Regions from separate parts of the Homo sapiens genome. Here region 2 is linked to region 1. The links come from fine-mapping of genetic effects on gene expression. Tissue or cell type: prefrontal cortex. Region 1 holds a variant in brackets; the other region holds the start of a gene. All regions are shown on one strand. Distances are from middle to middle.

Evidence for each region. PIP is the estimated chance that this variant, and not a neighbour inherited with it, causes the effect.
Region 2: it holds the start of EFEMP1, and the variant in region 1 is fine-mapped to the expression of EFEMP1 in prefrontal cortex (ROSMAP, PIP 0.91).

The regions. Positions count from the first base shown.
Region 1 is chr2:55,947,628-55,955,814 of GRCh38, forward strand. LOC105374690 (a long non-coding RNA gene) reads left to right here. Exons shown (of 9, transcript XR_940109.3): 2 at 612-729; 3 at 4,232-4,612. It also overlaps the pseudogene RN7SKP208. Among named protein-coding and RNA genes, the nearest start is that of EFEMP1, 28 kb to the left of the region's middle. RefSeq lists an enhancer at 4,005-5,204. The variant G/A (reference allele first, on the strand shown) is at 4,522.
Region 2 is chr2:55,919,161-55,927,347 of GRCh38, forward strand. EFEMP1 (EGF containing fibulin extracellular matrix protein 1) reads right to left here and starts at 4,622. Exons shown (of 12, transcript NM_001039348.3): 1 at 4,551-4,622; 2 at 3,739-3,779; 3 at 3,200-3,287. The coding sequence starts at 3,280. RefSeq lists an enhancer at 4,182-4,681.

The sequences.
Region 1 (8,187 bases):
TTTCCACTTACAGTCAGAGAACTTTGACTGTTATTGCTTAGCCTGGTAATTATAGGTGAACAAGGCAGTTAGAGGTTGGATGGAAACAGGATTGCTTTTACAGACATATTAGAAGTTGCTTTATGGACTACGTTTCTGAAAGCTTGTTTGCTTGTTATTCTTTCCTCATTAAAGAGAATTCTAAGAATTCTGAGAATTCTAGAATTCTAAGCAACAGTTGCAACATCTTTCATATGCCCAGTGTCCAACACAGTGTTGGGAACATAGTAGGCATTCAATAAACACCTGCAAATTAACGGAAAAGGGAGCGTAGGAAAACACCACCCTGTTTATTTTAACTTTCTGGTTGATTGCATTCTAGATAAATGACAGTTTATTATAGAGAGAAAAACAGGATCTGATGGAATCTAGGAAAGATGTGGAAAGGGGAGTTTGTCCAGCAGGTCAGGAAATTTGAACCCGTTGTCAAGGGTTCTAAATGTTTTTCCTGTTCAATGTTACACATCATTCATTTTTGTTTGTTTTTATGTGAGCTTAAACTTTGGGTAATTTCTTGATTAGTGCCTTTTAACTTTTTAATTTAACATCAGGTTTGTTTTTTTTTACAACAGCTGCCCAAAATATCCCTGAAAAATGAGGGCTGTGTTCACCTTTAATACTTAAAAATCACTTGGAGGCAGTTCAATTGAGCATGAGTATGTGTTTGCAAGAAAGTAAAACACAACCAGAGTGAGTAACCTCTGTTCTCTGAGGCTTATTGCATATCATTTATGCTTGAAAAAACAGTGAATTTATTTGTTTTAATGCCCCAAACTTTGACTTAAGAGTTAAAAAAAGCTAGCTGACCAATATAGTAAAAATGGCAGCAAACTTACTTTTAACTGGGATGGTATTTAATCTTACATCTCTTTATCACAGAACATGTTGAAAACAGAAATAATTTTCTAATGTTGGAAGCACATTTAGAATGTTTTCTCTGGTAATATAAAATGTAGGCTGGCCAAATTCAGTGAATAACCAAAGTTCCCAAACCCACCCTGGAGATAAAGAAGAGTTATTTTTTTAGCTTAAATTATCCAAATAGCTTATCTTTATAATCCCATGACATTCAGTAATTGCTCAATCTTCATCTGGTCCCTGCTGCACTGTGAACTGAGCTATATTAATGAAATGAAAGGATTTAAGGAAATAGTATGCTAGGAATCAGCAATGAAAGGCTCATTTTACTTTAAAAATGTTGTTTTTAAATTAGAGATGATACATGATAATTTATTTAAACCTGAAGAAATCCTGATTCATCTTCTCAAATATCTATATTTTGTTGATTATTCCATGGAGATTTTACTCTCTTGTTTTATATTTTCTCTAAAGGAGTGGGTGGGTCTTAGCTTGATTTGATGTTTCTTCCCAGGCCACCAATAAAGGCAGGCTTGTTTCCCAAGTGATTTTTATTATCTTTCTAGAAAAATGCTGATGACAATAACTTTTTAAATTACCCTTTGTACTGAACTTCTTCATGCCTTCCTAATCAAATATGTTAACAGCCAATTATTTAAAATTTAAGAAGTAACTTTGAGTTAAACAAGGGCCTCTTCCTTAAAAATGGACCCTAGAAAGCATAACAGAGAATATAAGACATGTTTAGTTATTTTTTTAGATTCAGAGTTTGATTAGAGAGAAAGTGACATTGATAAAATGGCCTTTCAGTAATTAAGAACTTTTGTTTGGTCCTTGGCATTGTGCCATACACACTGTGGGGTATAAAAGCTTATGATGTGGTTACAGTCACCAACTTACAGTCTAGATAACATGAACTTACAGTCTAGATAACATAATCATATTTACACCTGAACTTCCAGCAATTAAACATACAACTAAATGCCAAAATGAGTAGTATAAATAGCAAATACTATAAGAGTTCTTAATGCAGGTTACCTATCAGTATAGGCCAGTTGACTTACACAGTGGAGTCACATCTTACTTAGGGGTTTGGTACTAAAGTCAATATACAATATGAAAATTATGCAAAGTCAATATCCTTGAAAGCCTATTAAACTGCTCATAAATTTTAGTATATCCCATCACAAATATGTGCTACATTAGATACTAACACACTCTCTCTCAGCAAGTGCTGTACAGTTAGTGTTTCCTTTGCTGTAGACACAGATCACTAAAGAAGTGGGCTTGGCTTTATCAGCATCTGGAGCTGCTTAGACTACAAGGGGCACGTGGGGAGTGAATGCTCCTTCAGTGGAATAGACGGCAGAACTGCCTACACTTTACAGTTCTTTTACTCACATCCTTTCCAATAATCATGTAGAGGCAAGTTTACATAAAGTGTGTACATGATGTGTTCCATTTTAGATAAATTACCTGCACTCTTGCCTTCTCTTTCTCTAGCTGTAGATGGTAAATGTTGATTTGTTTTTATTTGGCTGTATTTAAGATTCATGTAGCATACTTAAATCAGCATATTATTTTTCCATGCTTATTTTAAAAATAAGACCAAGGCTGTCCTAATTAGGACCTTTGTATTCTCCTCTATAATTTTCCTATGTTTTTCTTCCCCTCCTTTTAGTTTCATGGGAGAAAATATACTCTACCTATTCTATAGCCAAAACTACCACCTGTCCTGGAACTCACTCTTTCTCATTTTCTTTAGGACTCCACCCCCTCATCCCCAAACTGAATAACCAATTAGCAGATATTTACAGAGCATCTACTATGGTGCAAATTATTGGACTAAGTTTGGAAAAGAAACTTTGAAGTGCATCAAAAGGGAAGACTGGGACATTCAATTGCACAAAGTACCATGTTATAAGCACCAAGCTGGTGATACAGAGAGTCAGTACTGTGGTCATTTCAGAGAAGGGAGACACTCATAGCCTGGAGTGAGTGGCTGAGAAAGTCCAGGGAAGGGGCTCGGGACTGAGCCAGGCCTGGAACCTTGGGTAGGATTAAGACAAAGAGAGCAGGGTGCATTCATAATTCCATTCATTCAGACTGAGATACATGAGTGCTGCCTGGTACTGGTCCTCTGTGAGCTCCTGGTCTAGCGATGGAGACAGACAGTGAAAAAGATAAATTTCAACAATGTGGCAAATGTGATTATACAGGGATTTGAACAAAGTCTTGTAGGGGCACAGAGTGTGGAGGAACCCTGTTGGATTCTGATAAGAGGTAAGAAAGGACAGGTCATTTGGGCGGCACTTTAAAGGTAGGTAGGAGCTTCCCAGGGCACAGAAGGGAGAAAAGCCTCTTTGGATAAAAGAAAACACTGCTCCCAGGAATAAATCTGGAACGAATGAGAAGCCCACCATGGCAGAGATGAAGTGCTGGATGTGAAGGGTGCGGCACAGGGGGAAGCAGACTGTGAAACATCTTCCATGACTACGGGAGGATTTGCATTTCACCTTCTAGGAAAAAGAGAGTGAAAAGAGAATTGGAAGCCACAACATGCCATTATAAGATTTGTTTTCTGACAAGAAAATGCATTTAAGCCTAGTGGCAGGGAGACCAGATAAGAGGTTGAGGGCTACACAAGGGCAAGATTGTGTTGAATTCCTCTTGGTATGCCCAGCACCTAGCACATAGGTGTGCTATATTTTACTGAATTGAGCCTTTGTGTTGCCTATATAGTCTAAGGAAGGGCTGAGAGCAAACTAAGGCCTTAGCAATGGAAGTAGAAAGAAGAGGTCAAATTTGAGTGAGGTTTGTGAGATAGATTCCACAGGGACTATTTTTTTGATCAGATGTGGTGGGAGGGGATTAGGAAGAAGAGAAAGTTGAAGATAATGCTAATGCTTCTTAACTTGGGAGGCCAGATAGATTTGTTATGAAATAAAATAGAAAACACAGGAGCCATGATGGGATTTGGACTCTCTTTTGGAAGTGGCTGTTTTGTTTAAAGGGCCTGTGGATTTGTCCAGCGGGCAGTGGGAAGCATAGCTCTAAAGAGTGGCATTGAGCTTAAGGCCAGGGATACAGATTTCACAGTAACAAGCAGAGAATAGATGGACTGGGAGCAGATGAGACCACAGTGGAATGGCCACTCTCTGGGACTGGATGAGGACTGTACTGAGTTGAAGAGTCCCCTCCCTTCACCGCCCCGGGATTTCATGTCTACCCAGAACCTAAGATTCTTACCTTATTTGGGATTGTTTGGAGGTTCTAGCAGGGGAGTGCAGCTACTTGTATATCCTTGACCAAAGACTGGTCCTCCTCTATCCAGATGGTCACCTTCTTCCCCCGAGTGCGCAGCTTCTGGAGGGATGCACATGGAGCAGTGAGGGAGGAAGAGGACACCTGCCTAGCCAGCCAGATCAGCCGAATCAACCCTGGTGATCAATGGAGTGACAGATGTTGCAGCCATATCGCCCTCATATCCTGTCACCTTATTTGGAATTGGGTCTCTGCAGTTGTAATTAGTTAAGTTAAAATCAGGTCATATTGGATTAGGGTGGGCCCTAATCCAATGCCTAGTGTCCTTGTGAGAAGAGAAAACAGAGACACAGACACACA[G/A]TGGAGAAAGCCATGTGAAGACAGAAGCAGAGATTTGAGTAACGCATGTATAAACTAAGGAACACAAAGGATTTCCAGGACCTCCAAAAAGGTAAGAGAAGACAAGGAAGGACCCTCCTTATGGCCTTCCGAGACAGCATGGTTCTGCCAACCCTTGATTTTAGACTTTTAGCCTCCAGAATTGTGAGAGAATATGTCAATATGTCTGTTGTTTTAAGCCACCCGGGCTGTGGTATTTTGTTATGGCAGCCCTAGAAGATTAATACAAGGACCATGGATGAGCCCTGGAACCTGACAGTGAAGGGTAGCAGGAAATGAGAACGTGAGAAAGGGGCAGAGAAGGAACATTCCCAGAGGTAGAGAAGGCCATGTGAGTGCATGAGGGGAGTAGCACAAGAATGGCTTGATTAGGAGAGACGACTTGTGGTGAGGCATGGTTTAGAGATAAAGTCTCAAAGATGTTTAGAGCCAGCTGAGGTGCACTTCCGTGTCAGGAACAGCCATATATGGTACATGGGCAGCCTCTGATGGTCGGGGGCATGCAGGGGACAGGATGGTTCTGGGCTGTTTCCACATCTCCAATCTTCTGTCTCTTCCCTCCTCTTGCTTCCAAACTCATGCCTGTCTCCCCTATTCTGCAAAGGACAAAGCAAATGACCCTGGGTCTAATCTGCACCCACTGCCTCCAATTCCTCACCACTCACCCTCCAGGACTTGATTTCTAGCTTTAGTTTCCCAAGTAGTCTTTAACTTGTTAACTCCTGTGCCTTTTTGTTTCTCCTTGTTTTCCTTGACCTCAGTGCATCTCTGCAGTACTAATATTTCCGATCTTCTCTGCCTTGTCCGAAGTTTCTCTTCATATGACTTCTCTGCTGCTATATTATTTCAATTCTTAAATTACATTTCAGTCCCCCTAGGGTTCATTCTTCCTGCTGCTGCGTAATGTGGACTAGATGATTTTCTTGGGTTAGCAATGACTTCTATGATTCCCTCCCTCTCTCCCTCAGACAATTTATATAACTATTCATTGAATGAATTAATTATGAATTAATTCAGTAAACAGTAATGCCACAAAAATTTCTTCACATTTGCCCTCTCTCAGACCTAATATAATTTTGGTTAGGAATATTAAGCATCAGTTCTAATCCATGTCTGTTTAGAATTCCTCTTGTTTTATTCAAAATGTTTCCTTAAGGAGCTTATTGAAGAAAATTTAGAAAATACAGAAAAAGAAAGAAGAGAAAAAAGCATCCAATATTTCCTTTCATCTTTTTTTTTTACATGAAGGGTTTTCTTTCATTTTTATAAGCAAGCATTTTTATATATGTATGTGTATCTATAATATTGGCTTATTTTCTGTTTTTTAATATTATAAGCATTTTTATGTTATTACCAATGTTCATAGGTATTTCTCATGGCTACATAGTAATCTATTGAGAGATTATATAATTTTTTCCTTAATCATTTTCCTGCTGTTCAACATATATGCTGTTTCTGTTTTTCTATTAAAAATAATGCTGCAGTAAATATCTTTGTGCACAAAATTTTTCCTATTGTAATTGTATTTAAAATAATATCTCCCTCAAAGTGGAATTTTTGGATCTGGGGTATAACCATTTTACATCTTAATATATATTGTCAATTTGCTTATATGGGGTTCTATACCAAATTGCACATCAGCAGTTTGTAAGTACTTGTTTTACCACCGCCCTTAAATGCTTACTTTAATTTTCTGTTCTTTAAATACTTGCCTTTCTTCCTGCAAGAACATTGATGATGTAGGTGTTCTTAGTGACGAGACCTACAATTTGTATATTTTTATAATATATATCTCTCTATATATTACAAAATACATAAAATTATTATATATAGAGAGAGAGAGAGAGAGAAAGAGAGTTTCTGTTAGAAACTAAGTTGACAAGAATCTGGCTTTTACTAACAAAAGCATGTTTACTTGAAAGCAGAATCTTAAAGAAAAAAGAAAAGATCTGAAAAGAAAATTTATTATGGTTTAGAGGCAGTTTCTGAATCTGTGGGATAGCATTTCTCTGTGATTCCTCTGCAGAATAAGAAAACATTCTTAATTGCTTAATTTTAAGCAGAAAAACAATTCCAACAGAGAGAGAATAGTTTTCTTTATGGAGATACGATATTCACGTATCCTTATGGAAAATATCTTCCCAAGGGCATGTACAGATGAACATTTTCTGATATGCTTGTTATCTGCTGGCCACATGAAGTGACTCTTTAGCAAAGCTTACATGAGAGATTTGTGTATTGCCCTAATGTAGGCATGTGTAGCCTGTGGTGTGTAGGATTGGCTCAGAACATTAATTAAATTCTTCCTGCTATTTTATACAGAATGTACTGTCAGTTTATAGTGTCTGTAGAGTTCTTTCAAAGAGTCTAAGATCTACCATTTTATAGCAAACAGTCCATGTCAAGTCTGATTTCTGAATCACTTTCTCATAATTCACTGCGTTTCTGGTTAGTGATACTTGAAGAAAAGTTAGAGAAAAGATAGGTGCTTGATAATACATAACTGGTATGTTCTGTATTCCCAGGTTTTTGAAAAATCAAACCAGTGGTGATATGCTAAAAGCTAAATTTTGTAAAATGTTAAACATTCATGAAAGAAAAGCTAGGTTTCCTGCCAGCCTTGCGGTCAGCAGCAGTACTCTGGCCTGATTACTTAAGCCGATGTTTTTCCTAAATCAGTCATGAATCAGTAATTATCAAGTTTTGCAATACTAGGCAATTCTCTTGAGAACAGCAAATGATTTGTAATGTTAAGTTGATAGCTTTTTTAAAAAAAAAAACGAAATAATTTGGCTGCTCTTGATGGGTTTCCCTGGGCACTGGGCAGACCCCTATTGATTTAATGGGCTTTGTCTGTGGAAGCTTGGTAGATTTATCTTTCTTACACGATCAAATAGCACATATTTGTTTTCTTTCTCCACAAAAATAAGAATGCTGCTGGTGTGTAGTATATTGGTTTCGCTTCTATTCATTTGGCTTAACTACTTAAACCACAGTTTAGTCACAAAATGGAAAAAAATGAGAAGTCATAGAAACAAAATCAAAAATCAAGATTTTTTGCTTTATTTAGTTTCTTCCAGCATGTTTTGGAATGACCTGCTGGTAACTGTTTTCTTCTCCTATAACATGTTCTCTTTTGTGTATGGGGATTATAGATCCTAGAGTTGGATCTATAAGGGACTTATAGGGACTTTGTGAAAAAATTTTAATTCAGTCCCCTGATTTTTGAAGCCCATGGGAGTTTAAAACCTGTATCAGTTACAGAGCCCAGAATTGGTTTAATAGGGATCCAAACATGGGCTGTTTTTCTTACACAGTGGCATCGTTTCAGAGACAGGATACCCGGAGCTCAGCGAATGACATTGTTTGCAATTTGCTTTGAGGTACTGCGTGATGCTGGGATTTTTTTTTTTTTCAGTATACTTTAAGTTTTAGGGTACTTGTGCACAATGTGCAGGTTCGTTACATATGTATACATGTGCCATGTTGGTGTGCTGCACCCATTAACTCGTCATTTAACATTAGGTATGTCTCCTAATGCTATCCCTCCCCCCTCCCCCCATTCCACAACAGGCCCTGGTGTGTGATGTTCCCCTTCCTGTGTCCGTGTGTTCTCATGGTTCAGTT
Region 2 (8,187 bases), 28 kb before region 1:
CATAAAATTTTTGAAAAGGGAAGGAGCTGCAAGGAGTTCTGGGTAGGTGGAGGATGAGGTTACAGAGGTAGGCAGGGCCAAAACAAGAAAGCCTTTCTTTAGGAATGGAAGCCTGAATTCTACCCTGAAGGTCAGTGAATCTCAAGCTTTATTGTGTCTAAGGATCATTCAGGGTTCTTGTTAAAATGAAGATTCCTGGGCCCACCCAAAGGATTTGATTCTGTAGGTCTGGGTAGGGGGCCTGGAATCTAAATTCTTAGCAAGTATCCCAGGCGATTCCCATACAGGTTGTCTAGGAACTACTTCTTGAGAAATGTTGCTACAGGCGATAAGAGGCCTCTGAAGAATTTTTAAGCTCAGGAAACAATCTGATCAGACGCTCATTTGAGAAAGTCACTGTAAGGAAGAAGCCCAAGGAAGGATTGAGCAAAAGTGGAGTAAACAAACAAATAAACTTAAATTCTTTTAATATAACTGAGAGCTGCTTATGTACACAATGGATGCTTGACAAGGAAATAGCTGAATGGAAGCCCAGAGATCCATTTAGATATTTTACTGATGTCTGAAACTTACTGGAGCGAGAACTAAATTCACTTTGTCTCTCAGACTAATTTTTTTCTTGTTTCCCAAACAGTGTTAAAGGTACCACTACCTTTTTCGAAACCCAGGATTCCAACTTTAACATCAGTGCTGAATGCTCCACTTATTTTCCTTCCATCTCTGCTGACTTTGTGTCCATTTCTACCATGTCTACTAAGAAAGGCTTTTGCTGGCCCATGAGTAGGCAAGGCCCCGCATCTCTACATGCTGCATACAGACCCCATGATCTTTCTTGTGCTCTTGGTTATGTTGCTCCTCTCTCTGAGACCTCACAGTGACCTGCAGATCTCTCATCATCACCATCTCTGGGTTCTTCCCACTACCCAGTTCCAGCTGATCTGACCTTATCACCACCTGGATTGGTCTCAGGTGCTTTCAGCTCTAGCTTTTGATTATGCCACTCTCTGACTCAGGTGCCTCTTCAGCCTTTCTAGATCAATCCAACCAAGGTCATCACTTCCTTCAAGAACCAGCACAGAGTTCTGTCTCCTCTAATATGCTGGCACCAACATTAATCACCTCCTTGCTTTTCTATTTCCTTGGCAATTTGTATAATCTGTATAATAGTATCATTTGTCCTTGCTTAGGAACTTTGTAGTTTTCAACACTGTCTTCCCAGGCTAAATTCTCCAAGAGGAGACTGAATTTTCTTAGTAAACAAACAAATTCTTTTAATAGTGATGAGAATTGCTTATGCAGATAGTTGTTGAGTAAACAGCTGAATGGACACCATCTTTAATATGGAAGAGGACTATGAGGCTATTATGTGGATACGAGCCCATTCTTCTGAAAAGTATCTTTCAAGCCAGGCAAAAATGGCAGTTCACTTGAATAATTTGTATGGTAAATAGAGAAGACTTGCAATTTGTTTTAGGTATTTACTTCTAGACATTTAATGTCAGTGTACTATTAAGTAAGCCTAGACTGAGTTTAGCTTCACCACTTGGCTATGTAGCCCTAAGCAAGTTAGACACTCTCTCTGATCTTCAGTTCTACCATTAGTGGAAGGAAGATGATGCCACTTACCTTACACATTGCCGCAAGGATCAAAGGAGATCGTGTCTCCACAGCGGGATACTCAGAAATAGTTATTATCTTGTCCTTTAACCATGAATTATTAGGCATACAAAATTTAAAGGAGAATAGGCCCAATCTTAGCACAAAAGGGTAACATATCTGGAAAATTTGTTACAATAATAATGAACCCTAGTTAGTGGTCTTAAAACTATCATGTTTAAGCCACAGGGAACCTTCTCTGGTAAAAATGAGGAAGATTTAGGTGATTAGCAAAGGGAAGGGCATAGAAGATAAGCAACTGGAAAAGAAGTAAAATCTTTTATGAGATGATTATAAAAGTGGGTAGTGAATTTAATTTTAGCTCCCTGAGAAGGCAGTAAGTTTAGTCTGAATAACAAAACATTTTCATTTTAAGATAAACAGCACATGCCTTCATTTTTCTTGCTTAATTTATCTTCAGCAGAGGAAGCAACTGCATTTAACATGAAGTTAACAAAATATTTGTATTAAGCTATTTTATTTATAGTGGATCTGAACAACAGAAAGGAACATTTGCCAGATGAATACTAACATTCTAGGGATAATGTGGTACCAAAAAGTGAGATAATGTTTATTATCAGTAATTGACATTAGTTCATTTTTAAGAGTTTTCTTTTCAAAAATTTTTCACATTCTTTCGAGTAGGATTACTTAATTTTAAACTGGGAGCAGTAGAAAAATGTGCTTTTCATATTCCAATCCAGGACAAATGTCATTTGCCTAACACTGATTAAAGACAAGAAAACACAGAACAGAGGTGCAAACAAACTCACCAGAAGTGAAGTCAGTACTGTCCTTCTCTGTTCTCACCACAACTATTTGTAGCAGTGGGAGGGGTCAGGTGATCTTTTTAATATTTTATTAAACATTGGTTACACCTATGCAACTAACTAATCAAATATTACTTGGAAATATCAGAGACGCTAATTAGAAAATGCAAAACGGAGTTGCACACATTACGTTTTAAAACCACTTTAGCCAATATGCATCCTGGTAACACATAAACTGTTGTCTGCCTTTATTTATTAGAATTATCAAGTTATACAAAAAGAATGAATATATAGCCTTTATAAATTCAATAAAGGCCACTTACTTGAGAATGCATGTCATGTACACAAAGAAGGCCATGTGTCTTTATGGTGTTTAACGTTCTTACTTGACTTGAGTCTTATTCTGCACGTATTGGTTTTATCTGCATGTGGTAGGAGTCCAGGTTTTCCAGTTCCTTACACCCATTAATTTGTTGAATGTTTTGGAAACATGTAACTTTCTTTGGTTTTAGTTTTTGAACGGATCCCATTTTTAGCCCTGCACAAATGATTACATGTTGGTTCCTATCTTAGGTGGTGAGCCCAATGAACTTTTGAAAGGATCAAGGGGGCAATTTACAACGAATCTTAGATATGAAGCATGAATGAAGTGTTGTTTAATTTATCACCCTCAGCAGAGTATAGCCCAAATACACTGGCAGGGGTGTGTAAAGTCTTTTTTTGTCACAGAATCCCGCTGAACCGTACTTATTTCAAATTCCATCACCCCTTACCGTGTACGTGATGGTTTCTTCGGTGTCCTGTGACTTGACCAGCGCCAGAGTCAGCATAGTTAGGAAAAGGGCTTTCAACATTGTGAATCTCAAAGAAAATACAGGACAAACTAATGTTTAGTATCTGCTGCGGGGAAAGTAACAAAACTTTAGCAGTGAGCACAAGCGAGGAAAGGAGGGTGGGAGAGGCTGAGGCTCCACCATACTCAACTTCCAATCTGCTTTCTCATCTCCCCTCCCCCTCCTGAACCTTCTCGGTAGCCAACGAACGAGGCAGCAAAGACGTAAAAACTGCTGTAGAATTGCATTTCACGTTACTCCATCCTGCTACGCTGTTTACATACAAAAGACATTCAGCGTGCATTTTATACTGCACCTACAAAGCAGGCTGCAGAAAGAGGGGGTCGAAAGGAAAAAACAGTAATCCATTTCAAAGGGGACGGTGCATTTCCTGCCCCCCAGTCCCACACCCCGGGGGATGGAGGTGGGGCTGCAAAACTCTGTTCTCTAGAACGTTAAGGCTTTCCCAGTATACTCACCTTGAGCTAGCAGAGTTCCTTGCACAGCACAGCAAAAATACCTGTGAGCCAATATGAATTGCCTTGGCCTCAAGCTTTTTATTTTTTAAACAAAATAACAAAACAAAACTCGGAGAGCAATCTTCCAGTTCTAGTAGAATACTAGACCTTCTCACATGTCTCAGAGCTTCTCACATCCCCCAGCACAAACTCTCAAAGTGGCATTTCCACGCCTTTCTCTGCGCACAGCTTTGTTTAAAAGTCCCAGGTTGTGTGGAGGGGCAGCCCAAAGCGACTGATTCTCTTTTGTCTTATCAGTCTGGGTCCCCGACACGCTACCTTCGGTTTCAGGCTGCCTAGGACCGGAACCAGGGATCGCACCGCAGCCCAAGGTACCAGTTTCGGGCGGGCGGCCTGGCCCGGCAGGGAGATGAGGTCCCCTTTCTTAACAGCAAGCTAACGCGGCGGTCCCCTGGAGCTGCTCAGCGTCCCAGCTTCTAACCAGCTCCTATGGAATCCAGGTGCGGCTTAAATCTCGCACACTGGTCCCCTAAACTTTCAAAACCACGTTTATGGGCAAAGCCCTGCCGGCTGGTTGTCGGCGCGCACACACATGCCCATCCCAACAGATGTCACCCGAGTACTCGCACTTGCTGACAGATCGCATTCCGAGGCTGCACACCTCCACCTCCCTCTCTGCCCGAGACACCCTGCACAGTCCAGGGCAGTTCTCGGGTACTCAACACCCCTCAGCTCACCCCACCTCACTCTCCCGCGCGCGGCCCAGTGAGTACTGGGCTCGCTCGGGGCGACCCCCCGTTGGGGGCTCCTACCTGTGCGGCCGCGCTGCGCTCCGGGCCCGGGCAGCGAGGGGAGTGCGCAGGGGAGGGCAGCCCCGTGGGTCTGATCTGGCGAAGTCCGGCAGCGGCCGCGGCGGCAGGAGGAGGAGGAGAAAGGGAGGGAAAGGGGGAGGGCGAAGGGGGGCGGAGGAGAGAGCTGAGGGAGGCGCGAGCGCTGAGCCCAGCGTTGCGAGCCCGGCGGTAGAGCGCGCAGCGCAGCGAGGTCCGCGCCCCCTGCTCCAGGGGCCCTCTTTGCCGCCCCCGCTTGCCCTCCCTTGCCAGCTCCTCGTTTCCCAGACTCGCGGGGACCCCACGCCAGAGAGGACACGTTGACATGTGATGTCCTGGATGCGCTTCAGCCTTGGGGATGCTCCCACTCTCTAGTGCGTTTTCTTCTTCTCTGAGGAGGGGAACACAGCATCTCCCTCAGAGACCAGAGGGTTCTAGAAACTGCTGTTACTTTTTTTCCCAATAAGTGAATGCTAGGAGAGTAAATTAACCCCCATTCATAGAACTGTTTCCTTTACCTTTTCTTTCGGATTTTTTTTTTTTTTTGAGGAGGTGTCTGCTTCCACAAATGGAGAAAAATGAGAATTCATCCATTCAACAAATATTTGCCACCTACTGTGTGCTTAGTGTTGGGAATAGGCCAAATAGAACTTGCACTAACAAAATTGTGAGGTGGGGTTTGTTTTATGGTCTCTCAAACCTCCCTTTATGATAACAAGTGTTGGCAAGAATGGAGAAAAGGGAATGCTTGTATGCTGTTGGTGGAATGTAAATTAGTACAAACATGATGGAAAATTGTATGGAGGTTTCTCAAAAAACTGAAAGTAGAATTATCATATGATCCAGCAATCTCATTTCTGGGTATTTACTGGGAAGATTTGAAATCAGTGTGTTGAAGAGACGTCTGTACTTTCATGTTTATTGCAGCACTATTCACAATTGCCAAGATATGGAATCAACCTAAGTGTCCATCAAGGGATAAATGGATAAAGAAAATGTGGCATATATGTGTGTGTGTATACAAATATAATATATATTATATATATAAACACATATATATATAAAATATGTACACACATATATTTTAGATATATATGCGTTTTTAAGGCTAAATAGTATTCCATTGTGTGTGTGTGTGTGCGCGCGTGCATGTGTATATGAGCCCATTCTTCTGAAAAGTATCTTTCAAGCCAGGCAAAAATGGCAGTTCACTTGAATAATTTGTATGGTAAATAGAGAAGACTTACAGTTTGTTTTAGATATTTACTCCTAGACATTTAATGTTAGTGTACTATCAAGTAAGCCTAGACTGAGTTTAGCTTCACCACTTGGCTATGTAGCCCTAAGCAAGTTAGACACTCTCTTTGATCTTCAGTTCTACCATTAATAGAAGGAAGATGATGCCACTTACCTTACACATTGCTGCAAGGATCAAAGGAGATCGTGTCTCCACAGCGGGATACTCAAAAATAGTTATTATCTTGTCCTTTAACCATGAATTATTAGGCATACAAAATTTAAAAGAGAATAGTATTCCATTTTATGTGTCTGTGTGTATGTGTGGAATACTATTTAGCCTTAAAAAAGAAATTCTGTCATTTGTGACACCATGGATGGAAGTGGAAAACATTATGCACAGTGAAATAAGCCAAATGTAGAAACACAAATACCACATGTTCTCAAGTATCTGAAAGTAACTTAAAACAATTGAACTCATAGAAGCAGAGAGTAGAATGGTGGTTACCAGAGGCTAGGGTTGCAGGGAATGGAGAGATAACAGTCAAAGAGTGTAAGCCTCAATTAGATAGGATGAATAAGGGTTGGGTGCAGTGGCTCATGCCTGTAATCCCAGCACTTTGGGCAGCCAAGGTGGGCAGATCACCTGAGGTCAGGAGTTCAAGACCAGCCTGGCCAACATGGAGAAACCCCATCTCTACTAAAAATACAAAAATTAGACACGTGCCTGTAATCCCAGCTACTCGGGAGGCTGAGGCAGGATGATCGCTTGAACCCCGGAAGGCAGAGGTTGCAGTGAGCTGAGATCATCCCTCTGAGTGACAGAGTGAGACTCCATCTAAAAAAAAAAGAGAGGAAAAGTTTGATTTTTTTAAAGTTCAATTGCACGGTGTCGTGAATAAAGCTGATAATTGAGTACTGTATATTTCATTATCACTAAGAGAGTAAATTTCAAATGTTCTCATCACAAAAAATGTCAAATATTTGAGGTGATGGATATATTAATTAGCTTGGTTTAATTATTACACATTGTATTAAAAAATCATAACACCTTGTACCCTATTAATATATACAACTATAATTTGTCAATATATAATAAAAAGTCTCCCTTTTTATGGGTTTCTTTTTTCATCTATAGCTTCTCTTTTCTTCACTTATTGACTTAGTGAAATCTCCAATACTGCTCATTCAAAGTTGGGCATTTCACTTTCACCTTTCATAGTGGAATTTCAGGAATCTGGAGAGAAAAATCTTTTTTTCTGTTTTTATCAAATCATACCACACAAATTGCAGTTACCTCTGAAGGCTCCAACTCTAAAGTCATACTAATAGCTTGCTTCCAAGGCAGCTGTCTTCTAAGAAGCAAATGGCCAAATACAATTTCATGAATGAGAAAACTTACAAACTGAAGGGGTTAAAACTTTGACTCTGTCCTTGAGCAGGAGGCAGAGCTCAGGAGGAGAGGAAAAGCTCCTTTCCTTTCCTGCTGACTCAAGGTGGGAGGGTGGTAGCGACTGCAGGAGAGGGAGGTTATCAGGTGGAAGCTGCTCTCTTTATCTCTGGGGTATCCAGTGTGGGTTACCTAGACATTGCCAGTTTGGTAGCAAGCCACACAGTATTGGACAAGATCAGAGGGGAGGTGTACAACCCTCCCTAAACCTTACTTGAGTATACAGAGTTTTGGTAATTGTATCAAATATTTTTACTATCAAAATTCTAGTGTTTTCCCCCAAGTCATTAATGACCTCCAGATTTTTTTTAAATGGATCTTTACTTTTTGTACAGTAAGAAGATCTGTGCACATGGTTTTTCCTGTTTCTCTTAAACTCTTTCTACCTGTTCCCAGCCACTTTTCCAGAAAAATGGGGTGAAAACTCTCAAATTTATATCTCCAGCCTGGAACTGTTCCTATATATCCAGCTGCCAACTTGCTATCTTCATTTGGACATCTAATGGATGTTTCAAACTGAACACAACTGCTGTTATCATCCCCCAACCTACTCCACCCACCTTCACCATCTCAGTTAAAGCAGTTTCATCTTTCTATTTGCTCAGATTCAGGACCATGGAGTCATCCTTGATTTCTCTTTTTCTGAGATATCCTGCATTCTATCCTTCAGGAAATTCTGTTGGCTTCACCTTCATGATATATCCAGAATGGAACCACTTCTCATCACCTCTTTTGCAACCACTCTGGTCTAAGCCACCACCATTTTCCAACTGTATTATTGCAACATCCTCCTAATTGGTCTCCTTGTTTACAACCTTGTTCTCCTGCAGCCTTTTTGCAGTGGGAGTTCATATGAATGAAATCATAGAGTAAATACTCTTTCGGGTCTGACTTCCTTCACTCAGCATGTTGCTTGAGATGCATCCTTGTTATTAG